4 linked regions of the Homo sapiens genome follow. The protein of the gene in region 3 interacts with the protein of the main gene of each other region in a pairwise test. Each region holds a gene or a part of one and is shown on either strand. Other genes may lie near its edges. The genes, in order: DNAJA1, TDG, AICDA and DNAJA2.

Region 1 (8,435 bases), on a different chromosome or scaffold from region 3:
AAAGTGAGACTGATTTCTCTTGAACATTTTACTCCTATAAGCAGTATTTCTAGAGCCCATAGGCCACTTTCCTGATAAACATATTAAATACATAATTTTGACACAATAAAGCTGAAACAAGAATAGATAGATGGCAGGCAACGAACCAGTTTTCAGCCCTGGCTCTGTTGGCTTGCTATATGAGCTTGAAGAAGTTTTAGGTTTCTGAACTTTAACTTACTCCCATTTGAAAAAGGCCACTGTACCTACCATCAAATTCCTTTGGGGAGTGAGGGAACACCAAATAAGATCTGTAAAAAGGGCTTGGAAAATTATATTGCTATATACTTTGTCTTTTTTTTTTTTTTTTTTTTTTTTTGAGACAAGAGTCTCGCTGTGTTGCTCAGGCTGGAGTGTAATTGGGCGATCTCAGCTCACTGCAACCTCCACCTCCCGGGTTCAAGCGACTCTCCTGCTTCAGCCCTCCTGAGTAACTGGGATTACAGGCACGCACCACCATGCCTGGCTAATTTTTGGATTTTTTTGGGTTTTTTGTGACAGAGATTCACTCTTGTTGCCCAGGCTGGAGTGCAGTGGCGTGACCTCCGTTCGCTGCAACCTCTGCCTCCAGGGTTCAAGCGATTCTCCTGCCTCAGCCTCCAGAGGAGCTGGGATTGCAGATGCCCACCACCACGCCCAGCTAATTCTGTAGTTTTGTAGAGATGGGGTTTCACCATCTTGGCCAGGCTGGTCTCGAACCCTGACCTCAGTGATCCACCCACCTCGGCCTCCCAAAGTGCTGGGATTACAGAATGAGCCACAGCACGCGGCCTGTTCTCATAATTTGTTTGATAATATCTAAGATTTTTGGAAGCAGTCATTTGCTACCACTCTGTTGGCTATTTTTTAGGCCCCTTAAATCTCATTTTAAAAAAAGCGACACCACTGGCTGGGCATGGTGGCTCACACCTGTAATCCCAGCACTCTGGGAGGCCAAGGCAGGTGGATCACCACCTGAGGTTTGCAGTTCAAGACCAGCGTGACCAACATGGTGAAACCCCATCTCTACTAAAAATACAAAATTAGCCGGGTTTGGTGGCACATGCCTGTAATCCCAGCTACTTGGGAGGCTGAGGCAGGAGAATCGCTTGAACCCGGGAGGTGGAGGTTGCTGTGAGCTGAGACCACGCCATGGCTCTCCAGCCTGGGCAATAAGAGGGAAACTCCGTCTCAAGAAAAAAAAAAAAAAAACCACAACAAAAAAACACGACACCATAAATCAGAGGCAATTTGTGGTCAGTTTGCAACATTATACCAACATGTAAACAAGCATTTAAAATGGGTGATTTCTCAAAGATCTGCTCTGACCAACAGCTAACTTTAGTTAGCTGCACAAAGACTAGATTCTTCTTACCTCTCCTTTCTCTCTGCATCCTTCCTCCTCCTCCAAAAAACATATCAAAGATGTCCATGGGGGAGCCAAAACCGCCACCTGCTCCACCCTCTTTAATTGCCTGTTCTCCTCCTTTGTCATATAATTCCCTTTTCTTTGCATCAGAGAGAACTTCGTAAGCTTGAGAAATCTGTTTAAACTGTTTGAGAAAAGAGGAGTGAATTTCATTTTTTAAAAAACAAGTGTTACCTAGCTACATTACACTTGATCTTAGCTAAAAAGGCCGAGAAGTGATCATAGTTACTATATTAGATACTCGATTTCAGGCCATAATAGAAATACTATACGTCTGGCAAAGAACTATTCAGATACGTTTAAGAGTAGATACTATTCACCTTCTCTCCTTCATTTGGGTTCTTATCAGGATGGTACTTCAAAGCCAGTTTCCTATAAGCCTTTTTCAATTCTTCCTGAGTAGCATTGGGTTTGACCCCCAAAACATCGTAGTAAGTTGTTTCTTTCACCATCTTCTACTGCCTGAAATAAGAAAATGCAACTTTAACCGGCTTTCAACTGGTAGCTTTTAATAAAAAAGAGAGCTAAGGCCGAGCAATCTCTTTGCAAAATCCGATTATAAGAACACCACCTTCCCTAAATTTCACCAAAAAGGTAACAATTCCTGCGATAATTCAGCTATAAACTCGAACAGACAAAACAAATAATCATTATCGGGAAATAATCTGAGAGCCGCCTTCTAGCAGCTGGTTCCAATTTTCCTACACCAAAGCTTCCATACTAATATAACACAACTATTATCTGGATTCTTCCCGTTTGCCCTAGAGGCGGTGACAGTTGTAACCAAAAGAAGCACTGATATGTTCAGTCTACCGGTCATTACACTATCACTGTCTTTGGCAAATCTGATAAACTCCATATACTCTCCAGAAAAAGACGTCTGGGCACACAGTGGTGGGGGGGAGTGGTTTATAGAACAGGTTACTGGCTCCACACAGCAAGCCCTCCACCGCCCACGGCTTACAGCTTCTCCAGCCGAATCCCTCTCGCCCCTCAGGCTGGCAGAGTTTACCTGCCAGGTTTCCCCTTGCACTTGGCGCTGACCGATTTCCTTCCTTTCTCCCTCCCACCCTGGACCCAAGTGGCGGTGGGGAAAGCCCAGCCCTCAACAAACAAAGGGAGGGGAAACAGAGAAAGCGAAACCAAAAGCCGCAGTCTCCGCCCGGCTCCCCCCGCAGCCCCTCGCCCCTGCCTCCCTGTGCGCGTGCGCAGGGTCGCCAACCCCACTCCCCCCCCCCACCCCGAGCGAGCACGGACGGGGAGGGGGGCCGCGGGGGCGCGCACGGAGGGGCAGCCGAAGACAGTAGCTCCTTGGAGATCCCAGGCTGGGGAAGGAGGGAGGTCTAGGAAAGGTCTCGGGCCCATTCACTGTGCGTGCCGGGGATGGGTTGCCAGGGCACCACACCAGCCCTCCAAAAGGGAAATCGTGGGCCCAGGAACTGACAGCGGTCCTACCCACGCGGCCAACTGCCTCCCGACCGCGGCTCCATCGGTTTCCCGGCGCCAATGGCGCCAGCCAGGGGACTAGGGGCAGCGCGAGGGCTCAAACTCACCGGTGCGGGCTGAGGCCGGTGTGTGAGGGAGCGGGAAGGAGCGCCGAGCTGTGCGCAGCCGGGGTAGTTACCGCTCCTCCGCCTCTCACCGAGCGTTCTGGAAAGTTCCGCCCGGCGCGCCGCAGCCGTCCTCTTTTGTAGCCGAACCCGGGCGCGTCACCCGCCGGAAGTCCCGCCCTTCTCGGCCGCTGCCACCGCCCCGCCGTTACCTGGGCAACGGCGCGGGGGCGCACGGGTCGGGAGGAGCTGCGCCGAAAGGCCTTGTGGGTGTTGGTGCTAGCGCGGCTTCCCGGCGCTCGTGGAATCTTCTGGAGCCCTTTTCTCCACTCAGCGAGCCTGAGAGTGCGGAAGTCTCCGGCTGGTGGGGCATGGCCCAGGAGCACTGCAAGTCCTAGGGTTCCCAAACCTGTGGGGTGGCCGCCTGGGCCCGCGAGGGCGGGAAGGGCTCGAGTACAGTGACCCAGCGGGAGCTGTGTGTGAACGGGAAAGCTCTTGGAACAGTCTTGCCCCCCCCCCCCCCCCTCTTACGGGCGCCTCTTCTCTTTTTGGGAACGTGGCGAGCAAAAAATGCTTGAGCCAGGTGGGTCTAGTCCCCAGACCAATAGCATAGGCCTTGGGTCTTGCTGTTTTTCACGCGTGGTCCAAGGCGGCATAATTAATCAAATTGTGAAGTTGTTAAGGCTTTTTGTGCAAGTCCAGGCCCCTAGACACATGTTATCTGCCCTGGACCTCGCTGATTCGTGCAGATTGAGCTCAGTGTGTCTGGGACTGAGCTAAACAGTGAGACGTTTGGACCGTCTTTGATGTACAGAGGGCCGTGGACTCCTCTGGTCAGGTTTTCACCCAGTTTGGCTACAGAGTAGCCGCAAGAGTGTCTGACTAAAACAATTTGTTTAATTATTTGACCTCACTTTTAAATCCTACGGGTCAGGGAACCTGGATGTACAATCTGCAACGTAAGACCTCGGACTTGAAAATGGTACCACGGGGGCTTAATGGGAATTGGGGTCCGCTTCTTTATCCAGGGACACAGCAGGTATGTCAGTATCTAGCACCAAGAAAGATGGAGTTTGCCACGCTCGGTGGCTCACGTGTGTAATCCCAGCACTTTGGGACGCCAGCGTGGGCTGATTGCGTGAGCTCAGAAGTTTGATACCAGCCCAAGCAACATGGTGAAACCCCGTCTCGATTTAAAACAAAAACAGAACTGGAGATGCAGAGTTGAAAAGCCCCAGTTAGACTTTAGTGAGAAGCCAAACAAGTCAACAGACTGCCAGAGAAACCATGAGGTAGAAGTCAGTAGGGGAGAGCCTCCTATATTAACCTGATAGATCAGAGAGAATTTCTTTGGGAAAGTGGCAATTGAGCTGAGTTTTGAAAATGGGAGGAGAGCAGTGGACAAAGCACAGGGGAAGGCTATACTAAGGTGTGGAAGAATATGATGTTTTTAGGAAATTGCAACTAATTGGATATAGCCATAGCTAAGGGAGCTAGAATAGCCGGAGGTGAGGCTTCAAAGCTAGTTAGGGCATGCCTTTGTCTGTTGGTATATATGCTACGCTAAGAATTTTGAACTTTATCCTTGGAAGCATCCTCATGCTGCCTCTTCAGCCTTTTCTCTTTCATTAATTTTAACTGTGCATTCCAGTCACAGAACTATCCGCAGTTTCCCATATACGCCTTTTCACCTTTGTATGCTTTTGCATTGGCTGACAGACACCTGATTTTTTTCAATCTTAGGTGTTGCCTTCTCAAGTATCACCTCTGGTATAAAGTTTTTTGTTTAAACCAACCGTTAATAAACGTCTAATATTACCAGGCAGTGTACTAGGGCTTTGTAATACAAAAATCACGTAAGTCAGGCCGGGCGCCGTGCCTCACACCTGTAATCCCAGCACTTTGGGAGGCCAAGGTGGCGGATCACCTGAGATCCGGAGTTCTAGACCAGCCTGGCCAACTTGGTGAAACCCTTCTCTACTAAAAATAGAAACAATTAGCCAGGTATGGTGGCACGTGCCTGTAGTCCCACCTTCTCAGGAGGCTGTGGCAGGAGAATCGCTTGAACCTGGGAGGCGGAGGTTGCAGTGAGCAGAGATGGTGCCGCTATACTCCAGCCTGGTTGACAGAGCAAGACTCTGTCGAGTCTCAGAAAAAAAAAAAAATCACATAAGTCGTGGTCCCTGCCTTCAAGGAGCTCACAACATAGGGAACCAGAAACAAACAGTTGAGTGTTAAATGCTAATAAAGGAAGAGTAGGGGGTGCATGGTGGCTCAAGCCTGTAATCCCAGCACTTTGGGAGGCCAAGGCAGGCGGATCCCTTGAGTCCCGGAGTTTGAGACCAGCCTGAGCAACATAATAAGACCTCGTTTCTACAAAAATTAGAGTTAGTGTGGTGGTGTGGGCCTGTACTCCCAGCTACTTGGGAGGCTGAGGCAGGAGGATGGACCTGGGAGGTCAAGGCTGCAGTGAGTGGTGATTGCACCACTGAACCTCAGCCTGGACGACAGAGCAATACCCTGTCTAAAAACGAAACTAACAAAAAAGTTAACACTTTTAAGAAGCATTCTTACGTAAAATAAAATAAAAAAACTGGCAATAACTTTGTATGTGGTCTTCGTTTGTACAGAAATGGGATCATTATACAAGCTGTTTACAGCTTGCCCTTTTCACTTTGTCATCTTACTATGCCAGGATAAATAACTAATCTGCCTTGTTATTTTTAATGGCGTAGTATGTAGGCACCGTAATTTATTCCCCTACTGATGAATATTTCAGCAATTTCCAGTGTTTTACAAACTGCTGCAGAGAAATTAGCAAATACAGCTTTGAGTACTCATGCAAGTATTTCTGTTGGATGGACAGCTAGAATTGAAATTGCTGAGTCAACATGAATGTAGATTTAAAATTGTAATAAATAAGTTTCCATACTGGTTTGTAACTGCTTCCAGCAGTGTGTGAGTGGGCCTTGCCAATATGAGGGCCTTTTGTTGTTAAATCTTTGCTAAGCTTGGAGATAAAAAGTGATATCTTATTGTTTCGAGTTTCTTTGTTAGTAAGTTTAACCATGTTTTAAATGTTTACTGACTCTCCTGTCAACTGTTCATATTATTTTACCATTTTTCTGTGGTGTAATTCCACTATTTTAATAATAGCCCTTTTAGGGGTAGATATTAGTCTGTCATGTGTTACAATTGTTTTCTTTAGTATATTCTTCGCTTTTTACTTAGTATCTATATATATATTTTTCGGCCATATAAAGATTTTAATTTTTATGTAGATAAATTGTGACTCTTCCTTTTTGGCCTTTTTCTTCTCTCCACCTTCCCCTTCATCAGTCCAGCATTATAAATATAAATCTGTTGTCCCAGGTTTACAGGTTAGGTCTAGTACTTTCATTGTTTCCCTTTTTTTTTTTTTTTTTTAAATTAACAGCCTTGATGTGTTGCCCAGGCTGGCCTCGAACTCCTAGGCTCAAGTGATTCTCCTGCCTCAGCCTCTTCAGTACTTGGGACTACAGACACCTGCCACTGCATCTGGAATCATTGTTCCATTTTAAACTTAAATTTTTTATTCCATCTGAAAGTTATTTTGGTGTAAGGACTGAGGATTATTTGTAAGTAACTGATCTTTATTTTTCTCCAAATGGCAAACTAGTTTGTCTAACACTAATCTTATTTTTCCTGACTAATGTGAAATCCGCCCCCCAACCTTTTTTTTGTATGTGCAGAGATAGGGTCTTCCTATGTTGCCCAGGCTGTTCTTGAACTCCTGGGCTCAAGCAGTTGTCCTGCCTTGGTGTCCCAAAGTGCTGGTATTATAGGCGTGAGCCACCACACCTGGCCACCACTTTTAATGTATACTTAATTTCCACTGAAATACATGGTACTACTTCCCTTCATTGTTCTTGCTTTTTAGAATATTCCTTGTATTTTTTTTAATATGTTTATTCTTCCAGAGGAACTTAGGAATATTTCTGGCAGATTCCCCCCAAATCCCATTGTGAGTTTTATTGTGATTACAGTGATTTTATATATCAGTTTGGAGAGAATTAACACATTTAAAATGTCGAATCTTCCTACTCATGAACATATAACTGTATATTTATTTTCTTCATTTTTTAAACTAGGTCTTCATCATTTCTTCTTAAATGTGTTACTAGGCATTTTTTGTTGTTGCTGTCATGGATGGCCTCTTTTCTTACCATTATATTTTATTTCAGTGGGATATTTCATACTTTCTTTTTTTTTTTTTTTGAGACAGAGTTTCTCTCTTTTTGCCCAGGCTGGAGTGCAATGGAGCCATCTCGGCTCACTGCAGCCTCCGCCTCCCAGGTTCAAGCGATTCTCCTGCCTCAGCTTCCCAAGTAGCTGGGATTACAGGCATGTTCCACCACGCCTGGCTAATTTTGTATTTTTTAGTAGAGACAGGGTTTCTCCATGTTGGCCAGGCTGTCTTGAACTCCCAACCTCAGGTGATCTGCCCGCCTCGGCCTCCCAAAGTGCTGGGATTACAGGCGTGAGCCACCACGCCTGGCCAATAACTCAATAACCACATGGCCGTAAGTGTTCATAGAGGTAGCTGGAGATGGCTGGAGGCCTGGCAGGAGCAAAGTAATAAGGGCTTGGGCATTATGCTAAAAAGTTTGAATTTTGTTTTGAAGGCTCTTGAGAGACACTGGAGGATTTTAGGGATGGGGTGATATAACCTGTGACAGCTGACTTTTTGTTTCTTTTCTCTTTCCTCATCTGTTCTTTCTTTTGTGAGGACCTGCCAGGCACTGCGCTAAACACTCTACAAACGTTGCCATATTGTTATCCTCACAGTAACCCTTGTTTTAGAGCTGATTTGATTACATTTAAATTTCACAATAATCACTTGGGTGCTAATGCGAAGGTTGGATTCTTAGCAGGTTTTTATGGTGAGCGATGAGATCAGAAATGATGAGGCCTAAATAGAAGAAATGGAGAGGGAGAAAAATAAACACAAATATAAAAACATGTAAAGTCTTCAGGTAGAGTCATGATGACTTGATGCAGAGGTAGGGAGGAGGAATGACTTCCAGCTTTCTGGCTTTAGCAACAGGATGGTTGGAGATCCCCTTCCTGGGGTAGGGAGCCCAGAAGGAGGAAGAAGCCAGGGTAGGAGCAAAATTGGGTGAAGGAAAAGGTGAGTCCAGGTTTGAATGAGTACAACTACAGCTATACTTTTTTCTTTAGTTTACAAAGAAAAGGAGTCGGAGCCAGGGCGGTTATGTGGGACGTGGATGCAGACGCAGGCGGAGGCGCCAACTGCGGGGATGGCTAGGGTGATCACAGCTGCCCCGGGGGCGCGGACACCCCGGCAGCTCCGGCCAGCGGAGCTCCCCCACCGCACGTGTCAGGTCCTAGCAGAAACGCAGCGTCTGTGGCCAAGGGCCAGGAATGCGGCCGCACAT
Region 2 (7,000 bases), about 95 Mb from region 3:
GGCTGGTTATAAACTCCTGACCTCAGGTGATCTACCCTCCTCGGCCTCCCAAAGTGCTGGGTTTACAGGTGTGAGCCACTGTGCCCGGCCTTGTCACCTCATAAAGGTCCTACCTCTCAACACTTGCATTGGGGATTTAGTTTTCAACACGTGAACTTTGGGGGACACATTCAAACCATAGCAGTGGCAAAAAAAAAAAGCCCTAGCCCCAACAAAACAAAAATACCACCATCAATAAAAATCAAATATAGGCCTGGGTGCAGTGGCTCACATCTGTAATCCTAGCACTTGGGGAAACTGAGATGGGCAGATCTCTTGAGCTCAGAAGTTCAAGACCAGCCTGGCCAACATGGCAAAACCCTGTCTAGACAAAAATTACAAAAATTAGCCAGGCATTGGGGCTCGCTCCTGTAGTCCCAGCTACTTGGGAGGCTGAGGTGGGAGGATCACTTGAGATCTCCCACCTCAGAAGTAACAGTGAACCAAGATCACACTACTGCACTCCAACCTGGGTGACAGAGGGAGACCCTGTCTCCCCACACACACACACACACACACACACACAAACTAATGAAAAAATAAGTAAACAGGCAAATAAAAATAAACTAAAAGAGAATCTTAATTAGATTGGAGGGGATCTTCAGGTGATTAAATACTGAAGGAAAGTAGGGGCACAAATTGTATTTGGGGACATCTTAACCCTGTATGGGTTGATAGACCTTTCAAGTCTGTCTACTAGAAAACTCCCTCAAATCTTATTTCAGAGAAAGTATGGGCTGACTTGACAGGACTGATCAGTTTTATCAGTGACACATCTTATCATTTAAACAGTGCAAGAGTTAATGGTTGGTTATTAAGCACTCAGTAAAGGTTGGTGAACATGTACATACAGGACTAGATCTCTCCTCTGTAATCCACTCTAAATAAATACTTCAGTCTGGTTACAAAATACTTAATACTGTACTGAAGATTTTTGTACAGCTGATCATTTGGATTTACATTTGGGTAATTTTATCATTACATCTCATGCTTCATTATTCTTTCAGCTATTCCCTTCAGCAAGCTCAAGCTTTTTATACGTTTCCATTTCAACAACTGATGGCTGAAGCTCCTAATATGGCAGTTGTGAATGAACAGCAAATGCCAGAAGAAGTTCCAGCCCCAGCTCCTGCTCAGGAACCAGTGCAAGGTAGTTTCACCATGAGAGCTTAGAAAGTTCAACATCGGATCAGCCAGCTTATTTGAGAAAGGGTTTCATGGTGAATTTTAGCTCTATTTTAGTGTTAAAAAGTCAAATCCACTTTTTAAGTACTTAGTATGTGCTAAGCACTGATAGGTTCTGGGGAATAAAAGAACATGGGTCCTGCCCAAAAATATCTCATAATCTAGTAGAGAAAAGTAATAAGTAAATACACGTTACAGCTCAGCACAGTTTGTAGTGAAGAGGGGCATAGAATGAATGCCCTGAAAGCTTATGGGGTTGGCTTCTAACTCAGACTGATGGCTCAGAGGCTGCTTCCCAGAGCAGAGAAATAACACCAGGGCTCTGAAACTCCAACAATGTGGAGGCTTCATCCCGATAAAGATCAGAGTAGGGACATGTCCAGGCTGAGGGAGCTATACAGGCTGGGTACAGACACACACAAGCATGGCATGGCCAGAAACAGAGCAATTCTGTGTCCTTGGAGTCTGGGATATAACAAGGAAATGGTGAGAGGTGAGGCTGGATGGGGACAGTTGAAACTTGTTTTTTAATCCCAAAGAATTTATATTCTATCATGAAGGCAATAGGGAGCTGTTGAGAGAATGTAAGCAAGGGATGACTTACTTGACTGGTGCTTTACAAATTAGCCTGGAAATATTAGAGAAGATAGATTGGTTGGTAGACAACAAGTCGGAACTTGGAGGCAGGCCGGGCACAGTGGCTCATACCTGTAATCCCTGCACTTTGGAAGGCTGAGGCGGGTAGATCACCTGAGGTCAGGAGTTCATGACCAGCCTGGCGAACATGGCAAAACCCTGCCTCACACAAATTAGCCGGGCATGGTGGCGCACACCTGTGATTCCAGCTACTGGGGAGGCTGAGGCACGAGAATTGCTTGAATCCTGGAGGCGGAGGCTGAGAGGCTGCAGTGAGCCAAGATTGCACCACTGCACTCCAGCTGGGCAATAGTGCGAGACTCTGTCTCAAAAACAAAAACAAAAACAAAAACAAAAACAAAACTTGGAGTCAAGGAGTGGATTAGATGGATTAGAGACACTGTTTGAATAATCTAGGGGAGCACTGAGGAGGACCTGAAGGGGTGGAGAAAGAATTAGGAAACACTTAGGAGGTAGAATTACCTAGCCATGGCTAATGGGTTTCATGTGTTTGGGGGGAGCATGGCAGGATAGTGGGGGAGAAAGGGGAGTCCAGAAGTAACTACCAGGTTTCTGGCATTGGCATTTGGTTGGAGGAGGTGCCACTCACCAAGACAGAGAATTAGAAGAAAATAATAGGTTCCAGGGGTGGGAGAGTGGTTGGAGAGAAGTTAATGATTTTCTCCAGTGTAACAGTATTTTATGAGAAATGTGCTCAGGGTTTTGGTTTATGATTGCAGGAACACATCTAATAACTCTGCCTCCGCATTAGGACTTCCCCAGCTACATGCCAGTGATGGTGGATCTGTTGGCATAGGGAGTGGCTAAGACAATGTGAGGCAGAAGAGAGGAGGGACTGACTGCCTGTATCCTGCGAGGCTTGATTGGGGAAACGCCAAAGAGGAGTAGAATAGGGTAGAAGCCTGAGTAGTTAGGAGAAATGTTAAATAATTAAGGGTAAGAAAATCAGGGCTTCCTGTTGGGTAACTATAGGTCAGTGGTTTTCAATCAAGGGTGATTTTGCCCTCCCAAGGGACATTTGACATTGTCTGAAGACACTTTTGATGATCAAGACTGGCAGGTTACTACTGGCATCTAGTGGGTAGAGATCAGGGGTGCTATTAAACATTCTGTAATGTGCAGTACAGCCACCCACAACAAAAAATTATGCAACCTAAAATGTCAATAGTGTGGAGGCTGAGAAACTGCTTTACGTCCTGAGGTTGGATCCCTCCTCTTGCCTTTTGAAAAATACTGCCAGCCCAGAGATGTCATCCTGGGCACCCCTAAATTCCCCTCTTCAACTATGTATGGAACAGAATATACACCTCATCTCTAAAACAAGCCCACAAGCCATTGTGTTTTTCTTTTTTCTTTCTTTTTTTTTTTTGGACAGAGTCTTGCTCTGTTGCCCAGGCTGGAATGCAGAGGCATGATCTCAGCTCACTGCAACCTCCACCTCTTGGGTTCAAGCAATTCTCCTGCCTCAGCTTCCCGAGTAGTTGGAATTACAGGTGCACGACACCATGCCTGGCTAATTTTTGTATTTTTAGTAAAGACGGGGGTTTCACCATGTTGGCCAGGCTGGTCTTGAACTCCTGACGTCAGGTGATCTGCCTGCCTTGGCCTCCCAAAGTGCTGGGATTACAGACATGAGCCACCATACCTGGCCCATTTGTGGTTTTCTACTGGGGAAGTTGAGTTAAAATGTTTCCCTTCCTTCCTGTTTCTCTATTTTTCTGTTCTTATTTAATTATTTATGTATTTACATTTAGAATTTATATAAAATGATATGTAGATACTTTGTATCCTTGAGGAGGTTAAGATGCCAAGTAATACTGTGTCGAAAATAATAGTCTATGATTATTCTTCCCACGAACAGCTAGCAGGGGAAGGAGAGTGGCATGGGGGGTTGCACGAACCCAGTTCTAGGGAGAAAGAAAGGGAAGATATTGCAGAGGAGACTCATGTTGGGACTGTAAGAGCTTAATTTTGGGGAGACAGGTACAAAAGGTGCTAGTTGGGTAACTTTTCTGGGAAAGCTGCTAAAGTTTCTAAGTTAAGATTTTCTGCATTTCTGGAAATTATTTGTATTTCAGAGGCTCCAAAAGGAAGAAAAAGAAAACCCAGAACAACAGAACCAAAACAACCAGTGGAACCCAAAAAACCTGTTGAGTCAAAAAAATCTGGCAAGTCTGCAAAATCAAAAGAAAAACAAGAAAAAATTACAGACACATTTAAAGTAAAAAGAAAAGTAGACCGTTTTAATGGTGTTTCAGAAGCTGAACTTCTGACCAAGACTCTCCCCGATATTTTGACCTTCAATCTGGACATTGTCATTGTAAGATCTTTGTCCTCGTTGGATTTTATAAGTAGTATTGGGGGATCAGCTTTACTTAACAGTTGTCCTTGCAAATAGCATTTTGCTGAAAAGGACCATTTCTAAGAATCCTTTTGGTGGTAAATGGTGTCAGCTTCATGAGGTTGTGTTATATGAGAGTGTTTAAGAGGGTGGGCTCCAAATTTAGACTGTCTGGGTTCAAATCCTGTCACAAGTATAATCTTGGATAAGTCTTATTAACCTTTCTAAACACCGGTTTTCTCATTGATAAACCAGGGGTGATAATACCACCCCCCGATAGGGTTGCAAGTAAATGAGAGAATCCATGTGAATCACTTCAACTGAATGATGCCTGTGGAGACCTGATACATGGCAGCACTAATTTTAAGCTCTTATTTTTCTCAGTAACTGTAAGAAACATCAGCATGTGAACAATTGTGTAGGTGATGTGGAGCGAGCTTCTTGTTGAAAGTTGAGAATCAGAATTGTGGCTGGACATGGGCTCAGATTGATTGTTCCAGGACCTGTCTTTCCAGACTCAAAGCAGCCCAGTTGGTGAGGGTGCGAGGCCTGGGATCATAAAGGAGTCAAACTGGTTTTTTAAAATAACAGCAAAACTTTTAAAATAAAGAAAATCTCTTTCCCATATATGAAATACTTTGTTCAGATCAAGAGTAGTAATTGATAAATGATATTGCTTATGATGCTGAATTAAATTTGTATTTTAATCAACTCAATTTTGTCCACCACTCCTCCATAGAAACGCTAAGGCTTAGGTCCTGCTTTTTAAGATGAAATGTCTAATTGTTTTGTTTTATAGATTGGCATAAACCCGGGACTAATGGCTGCTTACAAAGGGCATCATTACCCTGGACCTGGAAACCATTTTTGTAAGTGGTTACCTTTTAAATTAATTTACTTTTAAATTAGGTATCTTTGTTAACAGGTTTTTTCAGAAAAACCAATTGTGTTTTTAAAAAGAAAGAGACTGTAAATACACATTCGTGTTTCATGTTCTGTGTGTGTGTCTGTACGTGAAAATAAGAGAGTTTGAAATGATATGTTACTGTTAACATTTTAGTCTATGAGAATGGAGGGATGTGAATAAGAGTACTTTCTCTTTTGTTTGAATTGTTTCTAATGAGTTGTACTACTTTTTTTTTTTTTTTTTTTTTTTTTTGAGATGGAGTTTCGCTCTTTTTGCGCAGACTGGAGTGCAATGGCGCGATCTCGGCTCACCACAATCTCCACCTCCCAGGTTCAAGTGATTCTCCTGCCTCAGCCTCCCTAGTAGCTGGGATTACAGGCATGTACCACCACGCCTGGTTAATTTTGTATTTTTAGTAGAGACGGGGTGTCTCCATGTTGGTCAGGCTGGTCTCGAACTCCCGGCCTCAGGTGATCTGCCCACCTCAGCCTCCCAAAGTGCTGGGATTACAGGCGTGAGCTACAACGCCCAGCCAAGTTGTATTACTTTTTAAAAATGATTTTTTAAAAGTTGTTATCTATAGGCATAGTAACGATAGTATAGTACATCTTTGTGGCAGTGCAGACATAATACTAACTTTCCCAGATTTCTGGTGATTATTTTCTAGCAGAGCATAAAATAGTAGTAAAGACTCATATTTTTAGAGTAAGTTTTAAAACCAAGTGTTGGCTGGATCTGGTGGCTCACACCTGTAATCCCAACACTTTGGGAGGCCAAAGCAGGAGGATCACTTGAGGCCAGGAGTTTGAGACTAGCCTGTACAACATACCAAGATCTCATTTCTACAAAAAAATAAATAAAAAATTAGCTGAGTGCTGTGGTGCACACCTGTAGTTCCAGCTACTACGGAGGCTGGGTTGGGAAAATTGCTTGAGCCTGAGAGGTTGAGGCTGCAGTTAGCCATAATTACTCCACTGCACTCCAGCCTAGGTGACAGAACTAGACCCTGTATCACAAAAACAAACAAGAAAACAAACAAAAAACAAGCGTAACTACTGTTGCATTGCCTTCTCTATATAAGTTGTCTTGTATATAAATCATCTTATTTTATACTGCCTAATAGATCAGTGTATGCAGTATACGCTCAGGAAATTGATTATCTAATAGTAACATTCAAAACATTTAGGGCAACTGATAGTAATGTGGTTTTGGAACTAATAATAACATATTGTCCCTATTATTTTAAAAAATTCCTTTTTAAGGGAAGTTTGGACTTTTGACTTTCTTCACTGTCAAGGTGTTTGAATGTTGTTAGTCTAGTGCTGTATGTTTACGTGTGAGGTGGTGGTATCACCAATTGTAAAGCAAAATAGTCTCAAAGTTTCCTAAACTGAGTTGCTATATATTCTTGGGCAGGCATTTGCCTCAACCCCCTGTGAAAAGGAGATAATAATAGTATCTTGCAAGATAATTATGATGATTAAATCCAAGCGCTGTGGCTCACACCTGTAATCCCAGCAATTTTGGAGGCTGAGGTGGGAAGATCACTTGAGCCCAGGAATTCAAGACCAGCCTGGGCAACATGGTGAAACCCTGTCTACAAACAATACAAAAATTAGCTGGGCGTGGTGGTGTGCATCTGGGGTTCCAGCCACTCAGGAGGCTGAAGTGGGAGGATTGCTTGAGCCTCGGTGGTCGAGGCTGCACTGAGCCATGATCGTGCCACTACACTCTAGCCTGGGTGACAGAGCGAGACCCTGTCTAAAAAAAAATAAATAACTGAATTTTCATTTTACAGGGAAGTGTTTGTTTATGTCAGGGCTCAGTGAGGTCCAGCTGAACCATATGGATGATCACACTCTACCAGGGAA
Region 3 (7,600 bases):
AGAAAAGGAAATCATGTTAATAAAAAATCATTAGACGCAAAATAATATAAAATATAAATGAATACATGAAGTAACAATTTTTAACTCTTTTACAAACTTATGTACAATAAGATTAAAATAAGACAGTTGTGCATTCAAGTTTTCCTGTGGATCTGCTCATCTTCATTGCAAGGGTTGCTAGGTAATAACGGCACAGGGATATGGTTATTCTGAATATTTTTCTCACTGTCAAAGACAGTTGTTAGGGACAAATAGACACCAAAAGAGACAAATAGGGATCCCTTATTGGCTCCTTACATTTTGTTGGATAAAGCACAATTTCCTTGCAATGCTTCCCCATCCTTCTCTCCCAAATATTGTTCTCTTTCTCTCTCTCTCTCTTTTTTTTTTTTTTTTCTGAGACAGAGTCTTGCTCTTGTCGCCCAGGCTGGAGTGCAACGGCACGATCTCAGCTTACTGCAACCTCCACCTCCTGGGTTCAAGCGATTCTCCTGCCTCAGCCTCCCAAGTAGCTGGGATTACAGGTGCCTGCTACCACGCCTGGCTAATTTTTGCATTTTGAGTACAGACGGGGTTTTGCCATGTTGGCCAGGCTGGTCTCAAACTCCTGACCACAGGTGATCCGCCCGGCTCGGCCTCCCAAAGTGCTGGGATTACAGGCGTGAGCCACCACGCCCGGCCCTCTCTCTTTCTTTTTTTTTTTTTTTTTTTTGAGAGACAGGATCTTGTTATGTTGCCCAGGCTGGCCTTGAACACCTGTGTTCAAGCCATCCTCCCTCCTCAACCTCCCAAGCAGCTAGAACTATGAGCGTGTGCCACGGTTCGCAGCTTTATCATTCTGTTTTGTCACAACTCTCTTATATAGTTAATATACCTTTGGGAGAAGCATCACACACATACAAAATGTAGCAAACCTTGACCTGATTGGCATTTCTGAGATGAAGAGACCCACGAGAGCCAATAGATTTTCCTCTCCCCAACATTCAAGCAACTTCCTTCCAATTGTTTGCTAATTATGATATGTGAAGTTTGTGGGTGTTTCTAAATTAGGGACTTCCTTAAAAGAGTTTGCGTTTCCAGAAGATTTGCTACTTCAGACATCAACCCATTATTAGGGTGTCTTGTTCACAGTCCTCCTGCCCATTTTAAGATCCTTTATTAAAGTAGCTTGAAGGTGACCATGCATGGTCTATACCTCCATCCCCACCCATAACAATCTTCTTTTGTACAAACATAAAAACATGCTTCTGCTGATTAAAACATACAGCGCATGATTGGATATTAATGCTTTGGAGAGATGGTTTGGGGTCACAATCACCCAGATACTCTCATTAGGAGGTCCTATAGATCATGGCCTGATGGAAGAGTTTGTGTTACTTGAAAGTAAACGTCAAGGGAAAAGAATAGAAAAATCTATCACTAACACCACTGTTAACTCAAATGAATCAAATAATAAAGGATGTTGATATAAAAACATTTGATCCTCTCACCATGCTTTTTAGGATCTACCTTCTGCTCTCATCCTACCTAAAAGTCATAGAAAAACGTTGACACTTTAGGATGCTCCCAGGTCCTGCAGTTCTGTTATTCCCAGTAGGGGACAATGTTGCATTCAAAACTGCACCAATTGCAGCACGTCCCTGGCCAGACCTGTGTTCCTTCTCTATTTTCAAGACATAGATCTTTTTAAAGAGTCGTATATAAATATTTTTTCTGTAAACTCTAAGAAAGTGAGAGTTGAAGAATAAAAACAGAGAAGACTTGAAGGACTGTTTTTTATCCACTGTCTTCAGCAGAGATATTTCATCGTGTGTGACATTCCTGGAAGTTGCTATCAAAGTCCCAAAGTACGAAATGCGTCTCGTAAGTCATCAACCTCATACAGGGGCTGTAGAGAAAGAGAGAAGCAAATTGAGTGAATGGCTTCAAAACGAGGTTGGGGGTCGGTGGGGCCGGAGAGTCTTCTAAACTGAGTGGATGGCTTTGTAACATGTTGGAAGAAAGTAAATTGGGAAAGAGTTTTTTTGGGTTTTTTGTTTGTTTGTTTAAAAAAAAAAAAAAAAAAAAAAAAAAAGGAGAAAAGAATTCTGACCAGGAAGGAAACGCAACCCTGGGGAGAGACAGAAATTTAAAGATGTGAAACAACAAAAGAAAGAAAAGGGAGGGAAAAGGAACCTTAGCAGAGGGCTCTGAATGGTGAAACAGCAGAAGAAAAAGCTGATGTGGAGGAGAAATAAAGTTTTCATCAGATGAAAACTGAGAGTGATTGAACAATAAGAAAATATAAGAAATATACGAAACTCCAAAAAAGACTGTAGAGAAAGAAAGAAAATTTAAAAAGCGAGGAAGCCCCTTACCAAAAGGATGCGCCGAAGCTGTCTGGAGAGACGAACTGAATTTTCATGCAGCCCTTCCCAGGCTTTGAAAGTTCTTTCGTGGTTTTCTACAAAAGTATTCCAGCAGTAAAAATAATCTTCAAAAAAAAAAAAAGGAAAAAAAGGCGGGGATATGGGGGTAGAAGACAGTTCAGGTTCCAAATCGAGGGGAAAGAAGCAACCCTGGCCCCATTTTCTCATTTCCTCGGGGCCTTGTCTCTGAGCCATTCACTCTTTTCTCTGCTTCTAATCTTTAATTTCGGCTCCAGAGGTGAACCAGAATCCCCGCCCACTTCTTCCCCTCGAGCTTCCCCACTAACTCATTCATTCCGCATCGCAATCCCGAATGCGGGCTGCTGCACTGCGCCTGCGCGGAAGGCCCTTTCGCACCTTTGAAGGTCATGATGGCTATTTGCACCCCGGCGCGGTGCAGCCGCCGCAGCCCCTCGGGCTCAGCCTTGCGGTCCTCACAGAAGTAGAGGCGCGCGGTGAAGATCCTCAGACTGAGGTTGGGGTTCCCTCGCAGAAAGTCGGCCACATGTCGGGCACAGTCGTAGCAGGGGCTCCAGGAGGTGAACCAGGTGACGCGGTAGCAGCGGCCAGGGTCTAGGTCCCAGTCCGAGATGTAGCGGAGGAAGAGCAATTCCACGTGGCAGCCGTTCTGGAGAGACAGAGAGGACCACGCTAAAATTCACTGACTTTTATTGCGGCTCTGGTAGCCTTAGTCATTGTCTCCTGCAATGATCTTTGGGGATGCTTGCAGCTATTGTCCTTGTGTTACAGAGAGGCTAAGCAACTTGCTCAAAAGAGCACACCAGTAGGTAGAGCTGAACCCTTGGCAGCACTAGTCCTGCAGAGTGAAGGAAGGCTATGGGTTTTTGTGGAATGAGGAAGACGAAGTGCGCTGAGTTGGGAGGAAGCAGCATCACACTACCTCACCGAAGATTTAATTTGTGTTTATGAAGTTGCTTTTTGCACCTTTTGAGAAGGAAAATGGCTAGAAGTGCCTGTTGATGTAACATTGTGGAAATATACCTGGACCACTAGGTGGAGGCAGGACAGTTTATGAGGACCATTTGGGAGGATCTGAAAAGGGGAAATAGATTTTGGTAAAGCAGACAGATGGGTATTGTAAGAGAAGTAATAGGCACTGCCATGAGAAGTAAATGAAAGTGCTTGATAAAATCAAAGCCTTCTGAAATAGAATGTGTCATGTCACCGAATAGGAAGGAGATTGGGATGTATTCAATACAAATGTAGGCAAAGAAAATTGCATGGTAATATAACCATCAAACAACGAGCCAGACGATGACCTTCCACCCCACGGATGCTTCCCTGAGATTCCACCAAGCCCAGACGTCACAGCGTGTTAGGAGAGAGGAGATACCCGTGGGCAGAAGTTTATGTAAACCCATCTGGATTTTGGTGAAGAAGTCTCTTGGAAATGTAATTCTCTCGGGTAGCCGAAAGATCAATTTAATTAATCATCAGCCGAGGCTTCTCTGAGTTTTCTGGGGATCACCATGTTGAATGTATTCACTGGCCTACGACCCATGTGAGTAGGAGGGAAAAGAAATCATTTGGAAGACAGAATTGAGCCACCGTTAATTTTTTCCCAAATTCTTCTTCCTTAATTTTCAAAAATGCTTAAGACACAATTTGTTTTTCACATTTAAAATTTTTGCTTGGACAAGCTGATAATATTCTCCCATATAAAAATGCTTTTAGCTTAATTAATCTCAAAGGCAATTCAGATGCTGAGGAAAGCTGGTAAACAGTTTGGGAGCAGTTGTTCTTGGCACTGAAGGAAGGAGTGGTATTAGGGTGCCCAGCATTACTGGGGAGGAATTAAATCACATATTTTGGGCCATGTCTAATATGGGTGCATGGACATGGAAAAAGAAATAAAAAAAAGGATTTGAGGAATGTGATAGAGACACAAATGCCAAAAAAGGATGGAAGTAATACCATCAGCAGGTGGCTCTAAAAGCACTCACAGTTGACCATTAAACTGCTTGCAAAGCCGACTTTAATTGATACCTTATTGCGAAGATAACCAAAGTCCAGTGAAAAGGATGTAGCACTGTCACGCCTCTTCACTACGTAGCACAGGTAGGTCTCACGCCGACCCTTAGCCCAGCGGACATTTTTGAATTGGTAAAGAAACTTCCTCCGGTTCATCAAGAGGCTGTGGGTGAGAGGAGGGAGAGAAAATGCAAGAGTACAGTTTATAATCTGGTCACTCTGGATTTTCCTTCAGCTTTTTAAGGAAGTCATTACTTGGGCTAAACCAAAGAAGATGCTCTGACTTCCTCTGCTGGCTGCCTGAGCCCTCCTGAGCCCTGCTGAGCCTGGAATCCATCATAAACTCCTTTTCCTGCTTATATTTAAGGCCAATTGAGAGATACTCATCAAGGACCCCAAACCCTTACCCACAAGACAGTCACCTCCTGCCACTGTCTTCTAGATGCTGATGACTTGGGATTACAATTAAATTTGTTCTTCAACAAGAAAACGAAACAAAAAATAAAATAAACTTGTTCCTCAGTCCCATAATTGTATATTCAGATTTCCCCTCCAGTCTTTACCTAAGTGTCCAACTTGTACCTCAAACTCAAAATGATCAAAACAATATTCCTCAACTGCCCCCTGTCCTAAACTGCCACTCCTCCCGACTTTGCCACCTCAGGTAAGCAGCCTAGCAGCCTGGAACCATCCTTGACTCATTTCTTATTCCTCAGTCCTCATATTTAATTAATCATCTAAATGTGTTGATTCAAACCCCCCAATATTTCTTGAATTTGTACCTTCCCTGTTTGCTCTTCTCTGCTTCGGTCCAAGCCCTCATCTTCTTCCTCCTTATCTGTTGTGCTGGCCTTTTAACCGGTCTGTCTGCCTCCAGTCCCTCCAAAATAACATTCCCCACACTGTCACCACCATGATCTCACAAAAACCAGGTGCACCATGCCATTCCCATGCTGAAGACCCCCTGATGGTTCTCTTCTGCCTGCAGAATAAACTCCAAACTCTTTAATGTGGTGTTTAGGCCACTTTTTACAGTTGGATCTTGATCTAAATTTCTTTTTTTAAATTTTTTTTTTTTTGTTACGGTCTCACTTTGTCGCCCAGGCTGAAGTATACTGGCATGATCTTGGCTTACTGTAGCCTCAACCTCCCAGGCTCAGGCAGATCTGCCAGGCTCCGCGGATCCTCCTGCCTCAGCCTCCTGAGTAGCTGGGATTACAGGCGCCCACCATCATGCCCAGGTAATGTTTGTATTTTTAATAGAGACGGGGTTTCACCATCTTGGCCAGGCTGGCCTTGGACTCCTGACCTCGGGTGTTCTGCCCGCCTTGGCTTCCCAAAGTGCTGGGATTACAGGCGTGAGCCACTGCACCGGCCTATTTTTTAATGTATAAGAGCAATACCTGGCTGGGCGCAGTGGCTCACACCTGTTTTTTAATGTATAAGAGCAATACTTGGCCGGGCGCAGTGGCCTACATCTGTAATCCCAGCACTTTGGGAGGCTGAGGCAGGTGGATCCTCTGAGGTCAGGAGTTTGAGACCAGCCTGGCCAACATGGTGAAACCCCATCTCTACTAAAAATACAAACATTAGCCGAGTGTGGTGGTGGGCGCCTGTAATCCCATCTACCCGGGAGGCTGAGGCGACAGCTTTGCTTGAACCCAGGAGGTGGAGGTTGCAGTGAGCTATGGTCATGCCATTCCACTCCAGCATGGGCAACAAGACCAAAACTCCATCTCAAAAAAAAAAAAAAAAAAAAAAAAAGAAAGAGTAATACTTGATCATTGTCAAACTTGAATACTATGGAAAAATAGAAGAGCTCTAAATTTTAAAATATTAAAGATTTTTTAAATCTCAAATATCATAGTGTCTAATAATAATAATTAGACTTAGTGTCTAATGACAATGACTGTTAAGATTCTTGTGTTTATTCCTCTAGTCTTTCTACAGGCACATATTTACATGATTTGGATTATACTGATTGCATGTGTGATTTTGTACTCTGCTGCTTTTTTAACTAGTCAAAATGATCTAAATATCTTGCTATGTTGTTCCCACATAATGACTGATTTCTCCTCCTCTTTGTTTTCTGGCTCCTAGCACAGTGTCTTGCATATCATAAGCACTAATTTGAATAGCATTTGTGGAAATACTCTGGTAACCCAAGTTTCCTTAAAGAAATCAAGAGTCCCCATTGCAGCTGCAGACAGCAACACAAGCTGTACAGCATGGTTGATATGAAAGCACAAGTGATGCCTGGATTTTGTCCCTAGTCTTTTCCAGAAATGCATTTATCCAATTTGTGGAGCTAGTGCTGTCACCTAATGGTACGGGGCAGAAGTGCAGAGAATTTGCGAAGTAAAGGGCTCAGGAATTTGAATAACGTTTGCTGGCAAGAGAATTGAAAGTTTTCTTACACATTATTTTTTCTTACATTGAGGTATAATTTACATACAGTAAACTCCACCCATTTAAGATGCATAATTCTACGAATATTTTTGGATGTAAACACCCCAAACTGCTACCACAGTCAGGATACAGAACCTGAATCACCACCCTCACCCCACCAGAGCTTCTTCCCTCTTTGCAGTCCTTCCCCTCCCCACAGGACAACCACTGATTTGCTTTCTTTTTTTCCCATTTTTGTGGAGAATGGAGTTTCACTGTGTTGCCCAGGCTGGTCTTGAACTCCTGAGTTCTAGCAATCTTCCCACGTGGCCTCTCAAAGTGCTGGGATTACAGGTGTGAGCCTCTATGCCTGCCCTGATTTGCTTTCTGTAACTATAAGTTACTTTCATTTTCTAGAATTTCGTATGGCATACATTATCTCCTCCTTCATGTCTGACTCTTTCATTTAGCGTCATGACTTTGGGATTCATCCCCAAGTAGCTTCTTTGTACTGCAGGGTGGTATTCCATTGCATGGATATAGCACATTTTGTTTATTTGTTCACTTGTTGATGGATATTTGGATAGTCTCTACTTTGGGGTTTTGTGAATAAAGGTACTATGAACATTCACGTACCAGTCTTTGTGTGGATATACATTGAGAATTGATATTTTAATAATGTAGTGCAGGTGACAGACCCTGACTTTAAAAGTTAAATACCAAAATATCAGCCTAACTAAGTAGCTCATCTAGGACAACAGCTCTTTGTAGTTGTTTCCATTTATTTTTAATTTTTCTTCTTATTTTTTTGA
Region 4 (7,600 bases), on a different chromosome or scaffold from region 3:
TCTCGAACTCCCAACCTCAGGTGATCTGCCTGCCTCGGCCTCCCAAAGTGCTGGGATTACAGGCGTGAGCCACTGTGCCCGACCTTTTTTTTTTTTTTTTTTTTTTTTTTGAAATGGAGTCCCTGTCGCCCGGGTTGGAGTGCAGTGGCACCATCTAGGCTCACTGCATCCCCCTCCTCTCAGGTTCAAGAAGTTCTCCTGCCTCAGCCCCCCAAGTAGCTGGGATTACAGGCACCCGCACCATGCCCGGCTAATTTTTGTATTTTTTAGTAGAGACAGGGTTTCGCCATGTTGGCCAAGCTGGTCTTGAACTCAAGTGATCTTCCTGCCTCATCCTCCCAAAGTGCTGGGATTACAGGCATAAGCCACTGCGCCCAGCCTATTTTCTTTGAAGTATATGAATCTTCCAAGTTACCTTTTATTTAAAAACTAAAAATGAGTGACTGTCTGCCTACTTTGTGTACATGTTAGAGTCACTCATTACTTGATCCTCAGTGTGAACTCTTCTGAGTTGGTTTCCATGGAGCTTGCTGGCTTCCAGCCTGACCTTAACCTGCCAACACATGAATGGTGCCTGACCTTGGTCTTAGACTGTGAATCCACAAGCCCTCTCCAGTATGAAAATAGCTGTTTCACTTTGCAAAATCTGGGAGGTCTTTTTTCCCATTCTTTTTTTCATGGACCAATAAATGATTTTATTAGCAAATGTCAGTGGCCGAAGTTCAGGTACTTATTTAAAATATTTCATAATATCCTAGTTTATACACTTGAGTAAATTAGAGGAAGTCATGTTATCTGTTAACTTTGAGTCTCATTGAATCCTTAAATTTGTTTTTTAAAAGAATTTACCCTCAGAAATTAACATTTGGATACCATTCCAATGGTAATATTTGTGCAGTGCAGGTTAATTCGTTTATATTTTTCTTTAATATAGAAATGGTCTAAAAAGAAAATAGGGTCAAAAGAGTGCTGTCTGTACTTTATAGTTCTTCATGTTTAAAAAAAAGTTATGCTATATAGTGAAAGTTTTCTGCTGTTTTAACATTTCAGATTTTCCTGTTATTACAAATACTATGTTTATAATACTGCATTCTATGATTTATTTACCTTTTATATAGGGTATTCCCAGGTTTTTTCTCTGTAATAGATACTGCTGCTATGAGTATCTTTATGTAGAGCTTTGTTTCTCCTTGGCAGAGATTCCCAGGCAGGCATGAGTGTTTTGAGGCTGATAAATACAACTAAATTGCCTTGCAGAGGGATTGTGCCAGTTTAGGCCCCACTAGTGGAGAGTGCCAGCCTTGCCAAACCATTACCTGCATTTTTCCTTCCTTGGCCTTCTTTGTTGAGATGTGTATTTTTCTCTGGCTTAGGATACTGGTTGTGCATACCAATTGTAATTTAATATGTAGGGGAAGAAAGCCGATTTTCTTTAAATGATTTGTTATGCAGAGTATACAAGATGCAACAAGCGTTTTGGTCTAAAGCTCAGCTGTTGATAGGTCATTATTTGACAGTGTTGTTGGTAATGTTTTGTCCATACGTGTGGTATTCTTATCCTGCCTACAACAGTTTTAAGTTTCTGAGAATAACAATTTTAAGAAAGTTTGAATATCACAAAATAGTATAGGTGCTTTGTAAAATACTTTAAACTATTTTTTTGTTCCTCTAACTCCCAGGATTTTAAAGCAGATCATTACGGGATGACCATTACTAATCTGAAATCTGAAATGCTCCAAAATATGAAACTTTTTGAGCACCATCATGATGCCACAAGTAGAAAACTCCACACATAAGTACTTGTCTCACTCTGTCCCCCAGGCTGGAGTGCAGTGGTACGATCTCAGCTCACTGCAGCCTCAATCTCCAGGGCTTAAGCAATTCCCCTGCCTCAGCCTCCTGGGTAGCTGGGACTTCAGACATGCCACTACACCTGGCTAATTATTTTTTATTTTTTGGTAAAGATGAGGTCTCTCTAAGTTGCTCAGGCTGGTCTTGAACTCTGGGCTCAAGCAATCCTCCCTCCTCAGTCTCCCGAAGTGCTGGGATTATAGGCATGAGCCACTGCACCTGGCATGAAAAACTATTCTATCCCTCCTTTCTGTCATACTATAGGTAGGGCCACTTTTATTTTTTTTAAGACATATGCCATCTAAGTGACTCCCTTAAGCCGAAATATAACTTTGTAGCCTTTCTAAATTGTCCATGGAGGAAACAGGGACTCTGGAGCCAGATACCTATGTGATCTTGGGCAAGTTACTTGACTGTTCTGTGCCTCAGTTTTATCACATAAAATGGGAATAATAATTGTACCTCTTCTGAAGGGTTTTTATTAGGAGTTAGGTGGAGGGCTTATGCCTCAGAACAGAAGGTTGTGATATTTGAGTTTGCGAAGTCATCAGCTTTATCAGAAATTCCACCACAGCAAATTGTTGGCCTGATGCTATAGGCTCTGGCTTTGGGTATCATATATGTACTGTCTGTAGTCATAAAATATTTCTGTTAATTTGAGCCATAATATAAGCCTCAGTTTAATTGATTTAATGTGAGATTATGAGGTGTTTTTGAATTCTGTTTTAAAAGTTGATAACGAATTTGCTGTATCAGCTGTTACTTATATCTTGTATTTGACAAAATGTGGCAAAATTTGATTGAAGCCGATTCTTTTCTTTCCAGAGTATCTTTAGAAGATCTGTATAATGGCAAGACAACCAAACTACAACTTAGCAAGAATGTGCTCTGTAGTGCATGCAGTGGGTAAGTGTGTCTTCTGGTTTATTGGGTACATTTTGTCTGTTCTTTTAAGTATCACACTGAATGTCTGTACCACGTAAAAATTGTTATAAGTTAAAACTTACGGCTGGGTGCGGTGGCTCACACCTGAAATCCCAGCACTTTGGGAGGCCGAGTCGGGTGGATCACCTGAGGTAGGAGAATCGCTTGAACCCGAGAGGTGAAGGTTGCAGTGAACCAAGATTGCGCCACTGCACTCCAGCCTGGGTGACAGAGTGAGACTCCATCTCAATAAATAAGTAAAAAAATCTTAGCAGAATGTTTTCTGATACTTCTGGAAGTCAATTTAAATACAAGTTATTGGGGTTGAAGATGAAGGTAAAAGCACAATTTCTGTGTGTCATAGCTTATTGGAGTGGTTTGTGGACAAAAACCTAATGCATAACTTGTGCTTGCTTTAGCCAAGGCGGAAAGTCTGGAGCTGTCCAAAAGTGTAGTGCTTGTCGAGGTCGAGGTGTGCGCATCATGATCAGACAGCTGGCTCCAGGGATGGTACAACAGATGCAGTCTGTGTGCTCTGATTGTAATGGAGAAGGTATGTGTGCCAGTACTTCTCTGCTTTTATGTTGGAATGGATTGGGAATGCAGATATTGGAGAGGTTTACAATTTTTTATTTCAAAGGGTATTTGTATACATCTTATTAAAGAAAAAGGAGGCCGGGTGCGTTAGCTCATTCCTATAATTCCAGCACTTTGGGAGACAGAGGTGGATTGCTCGAGCCCAGGAGTTTGAGGCCAGCTTGGGCAATATAGGGAGACCTCATTACTATAGGAAAAAAAAGTGTGGAAAAATATGTAATGAGGGGCTCAGGGCATGTCTGTGGTCCCAGCTGCGTGGGAGGCTGAGGCGGGAGGATTGCTTGAGCCCAGGAGTTCGAGGGAGCAGTGATCTGTGATCATACCAGTGCACTTCAGCCAGGGTGACAGAACAAGACCCTGTTGCAAAAAATAAAAGATAAAAGTGTGAAAGTAATTACTCCATTATGCCTAAGCCCAGTGAACATAGAGAAACAGTAGATTTGTATTGTGTTAGTGAAAGGTGACTCTTTTTAATTCAGAAAAGAGGAGCAAGGTGATTATTTGTCCCTTTGCTATTTCCTTCTTTATCAAATATAACCTTTTATTTACTCTCTCTGTAGGAATGACCACCATAGGAGGACTATCTCCTTTATCACATAGAACCTTTTAAACTACAAAGGGACAAATAATCAAATAATAAATAACTAAACAAGTAGTTGTTTAGTTATTCTGATAAGTGGAAGATTTCACTGTAACCTTTAGTTAGCTTTTCAGAATTGATCTTGAGATTGAAGCTGTCCTTACAGAAGTAAATAATTTAGTCTTTGTGGGCCAAATAGTTTTTGTCACAACTACTCATCTCTGACCTTTTAGTGCTTTTATGGCCACAGACACATGGATATGGCTGTGTTCTGATTAAAATTTTAATTATAAAAACACATAGCTCCTCCCACCCCTGCCATTCTAGAGCAGTGCTATCCAATAGAATTTTTTTCTGTGATGATGGAAATGTTCTGTATCTGCAGTGTCCAGTACAGTAGCCATTAATCACCTGTGACTACTGCATATTTCACATGTGGCTAGTGTGACTGGAGAACTATTTTAAATTTGAATTAATTTAAACATAAACAAGTAGCTACAGGTTGATAGTGGCTACCATATTTGACAGTATAGTTCAATAGCATCCTTTTCCAAATTGCTATTGGAAGTGATGAGATAATTATGAGAAGTTACATATGATATTTCCTTCCTGGAGAGTCTTGGCATTTTACTTTATTTTTTTAAATTATTATTATTTTTGGAGATAGGGTCTTGCTGTCGCCTGGGCTGGAGTGCAGTGGCACACTCTCGGCTCACCGCAGCCTCCACCGCCCACGCTGAAGCAATCCTTCCACCTCAGCCCCTCGCCCCACAATTAGCTGAGACCATAGGTGCTTGCCACCACGCCCAGCTAATTTTTGTATTTCTTGTAGAGATGGGGTTTTGCCACGTTGCCCAGGCTGGTCTCGAACTCCTGGGTTCAAGTAATTCTCCTGCCCCAGCCTCCCAAAGGGCTGGGATTACAGGTGTTAGCCACCACTCTTGGCCTGCTTTTATTTTATTATAATTGCTAACTCCCACTATCAAGAAACCAAAGTTAACTGAAATCTTTCTCATGTACCATTACATTTTTCTTTTTTCTTTTTTTTTTTTTTTTGTGAGACGGAGTCTTGCTCTGTTGCCCAGGCTAGAGTGCAGTTGCGTGATCTCAGCTCACCGAAGCCTCTGCCTCCCTGGTTCAAGTGATTCTGCTGCCTCGGCCTCCTGAGTAGCTGGGATTACAGGCGCCTGCCACCACGCCCGGCTGATTTTTGTATTTTCAGTGGAGACGGGGTTTTGCCGTGTTGGCCAGGCTGGTCTCAAACTCCTGACCTCAGGTGATCCTCCCGCCTTCGCCTCCCAAAGGGCTGGGATTACAGGTGTGAGCCACCATGCCCGGCCACTATTACCATTTTGAAGAACGTGTTTTGCAGAACATACTTTGCACAAGTACTGTTACAGAAACAGTCCCTAAATAATCAGTTATACACTTCTTTCTAAGCCTTCAAATGTGCTGGTAATTAGCCATTAGAAAGTGACGCAGTTTTTTCACACTATAATATGTATAATCACGGTTTTGCTTTTTAATACCATAATTATAAGAGAAAAGCTGTGTTGCCCTAAACATGGTATGGATACATTACATTCTGAAATAGTGGGAAGCTGAGTCCTTCAGGCAGTCTGCAGTAGTAAGATGTAAGTTTTTGTTATTCAGAATAGTGCTTTTTTTTGTTTTGTTTTGAGACATGGCCTCACACTGTCACCCAGACTGGGGTGCAGTGGCATGATTATAACTAACTGCAGCCTCGAACTCCAGCAGTCCTCCCTCCTCAGCCTCCCCAGTAGCCAGGATTACAGGTGTGCACTACCACGCCGGCTAACTTTTTTTATTTGTAGTAGAGGCAAGGTCTCACTGTGTTGCTAGGCTGGTCTCAGATCCTGAGCTCAAGTGATCCTACCACCCTGACCTCGCAAAATGCTGGGATTGCAGGCTTGAGCCACTGTGCTTGGCCTCAGAATGCTGCTTTGAATAAAAATTTAGGTAGTGATTAAAAGAAGTCCAGAAAGCATATTTAAAGAATAAGGGTATTAAGAGTACAGTATAGTACTCTTGCTGAAAGTTTCAATGACTTCTCTTTCCAGGAGAGGTAATTAATGAAAAAGACCGCTGTAAAAAATGTGAAGGGAAGAAGGTGATTAAAGAAGTCAAGATTCTTGAAGTCCACGTAGACAAAGGCATGAAACATGGACAGAGAATTACATTCACTGGGGAAGCAGACCAGGCCCCAGGAGTGGAACCCGGAGACATTGTTCTTTTGCTACAGGAGAAAGAACATGAGGTGATTTTCCTTTTTTTAGTTTTTTGTATTTTGTTTTATTCAGAAGTACTTCTTGCTTGTGAGAAATAGGTTAGATCTGTTTGGAGTCCCTGGAGCAACACTGAACACTGGTGAAGTTAAGGGCATCATGGTGAGTTCCTAAGACGGGCTTGTGTAAGAAAGACTAACAAGGCAGGTGCAGTTAGAAGCACTGTAAGAGTCAGTTTTAGTCCTGGCTTGGTTTCTTCCCCCTGCCCCTCAGTTGGAGTTTCACTCTTGTTGCCCAGGCTGGAGTGCAATGGTGCGATCTCGGCTCACTACAACCTCTGCCTCCCGGGTTCAAGTGATTCTCCTGCCTCAGCCTCCCGAGTAGTTGGGACTACAGGCATGCTTCTTCACTCCTGGCTAATTTTTATTTTTAGTAGAGACAGGCTTTCTCCATGTTGGTCAGGCTGGTCTCAAGCTCCCAACCTCAGGTGATCTGCCTGCCTCAGCCTCCCAAAGTGCTGGGATTAAAAGCGGGAGCCACCGCGCCTGGCCTTGGTCTTTTTTGTGTGTGTGTGACGGAGTCTTGCTTTGTTACCCAGGCTGGAATGCAGTGGCACGATCTTGGCTCACTGCAGCCTCCACCTCCCAGGTTCAAGCGATTCTCCTCTGGCCTGGTCATTGACTAACACTTTAACCATAGGTAATCTTACTGTCTCAGTTTCTTTGTTTATGAAAATAAGGGCACTGGGTGTTGGACCAGTTGATCTAAGGCAGCCTGTATTTTCACTGTGAAACTCTGCTGCTCTGTCGATTTGGTTTTTACTTATTGGGTACCCAAGTGAGCTATCCTTGAAAGGGTTCTGGGATTTTTTTTAAAAAAAATATTTTTTTAGAAGCTTCTGAAGAATGTGGTCACTAGTGTATGTTTTGGGGGGTTTTTGTTTTTGAGATGGTCTTGCTCTGTCGCCCTGGCTGGAGTACAGTGGTGTGATCTGGGATCACTGCAACCTTCGCCCCTGGGCCCAAGCAATCCTCCCATCTCAGCCTCCCAAGTAGCTGGGACAACTGGTGCACCATCATGCCCATCTATTTTTTTGTTTGTTTGTTTTTTGGGGTTTTTTTTTTTTTTGTATTTTTAGTAGAGACAGGGTCTTGCCATATTGCCCAGGCTGGTTTTGAACTTCTGAGCTCAAGCGATCCTCCTGTCTCAACTTCCCAAAGTGCTGGGATTACAGGTGTGAGCCACAGTGCCCAGCCTAGTGTATGTTATTTTGATTTTAACATTGCACTTGTATATTTTTAATGTCCATATTGTATACTGTAGACCCTACTCAAAGAATAAATCTGGAACTATTCATGAAAAACCCCTCCAGTAATCACCTAAATTCTTGAATGTTAGAAGC

What was found.
Region 1: the proteins of AICDA (region 3) and DNAJA1 interact in binary tests that used the Homo sapiens proteins (3 or more experiments, as listed by UniProt).
Region 2: the proteins of AICDA (region 3) and TDG interact in binary tests that used the Homo sapiens proteins (3 or more experiments, as listed by UniProt).
Region 4: the proteins of AICDA (region 3) and DNAJA2 interact in binary tests that used the Homo sapiens proteins (3 or more experiments, as listed by UniProt).

Annotation. Positions count from the first base shown.
Region 1 is NC_000009.12:33,019,949-33,028,383, reverse strand, and holds the start of DNAJA1 (dnaJ homolog subfamily A member 1), read right to left. Parts: upstream 3,112-8,435; 5' UTR 3,001-3,111; intron 1,910-3,000; 5' UTR 1,900-1,909; coding exon 1,768-1,899; intron 1,572-1,767; coding exon 1,394-1,571; intron 1-1,393.
Region 2 is NC_000012.12:103,975,872-103,982,871, forward strand, and holds part of TDG (G/T mismatch-specific thymine DNA glycosylase), read left to right. Parts: intron 1-1,046; coding exon 1,047-1,189; intron 1,190-3,959; coding exon 3,960-4,201; intron 4,202-4,283; exon of another isoform or gene 4,284-4,756; intron 4,757-5,021; coding exon 5,022-5,091; intron 5,092-6,927; coding exon 6,928-7,000. UniProt on the Homo sapiens protein: DNA glycosylase that plays a key role in active DNA demethylation: specifically recognizes and binds 5-formylcytosine (5fC) and 5-carboxylcytosine (5caC) in the context of CpG sites and mediates their excision through base-excision repair (BER) to install an unmethylated cytosine.
Region 3 is NC_000012.12:8,602,450-8,610,049, forward strand, and holds part of AICDA (single-stranded DNA cytosine deaminase), read right to left. Parts: intron 4,564-7,600; coding exon 4,416-4,563; intron 3,037-4,415; coding exon 2,766-3,036; intron 2,474-2,765; coding exon 2,358-2,473; intron 1,889-2,357; coding exon 1,835-1,888; 3' UTR 1-1,834. UniProt on the Homo sapiens protein: Single-stranded DNA-specific cytidine deaminase. Involved in somatic hypermutation (SHM), gene conversion, and class-switch recombination (CSR) in B-lymphocytes by deaminating C to U during transcription of Ig-variable (V) and Ig-switch (S) region DNA.
Region 4 is NC_000016.10:46,963,241-46,970,840, reverse strand, and holds part of DNAJA2 (dnaJ homolog subfamily A member 2), read left to right. Parts: intron 1-2,676; coding exon 2,677-2,757; intron 2,758-3,194; coding exon 3,195-3,328; intron 3,329-6,033; coding exon 6,034-6,230; intron 6,231-7,600. UniProt on the Homo sapiens protein: Co-chaperone of Hsc70. Stimulates ATP hydrolysis and the folding of unfolded proteins mediated by HSPA1A/B (in vitro).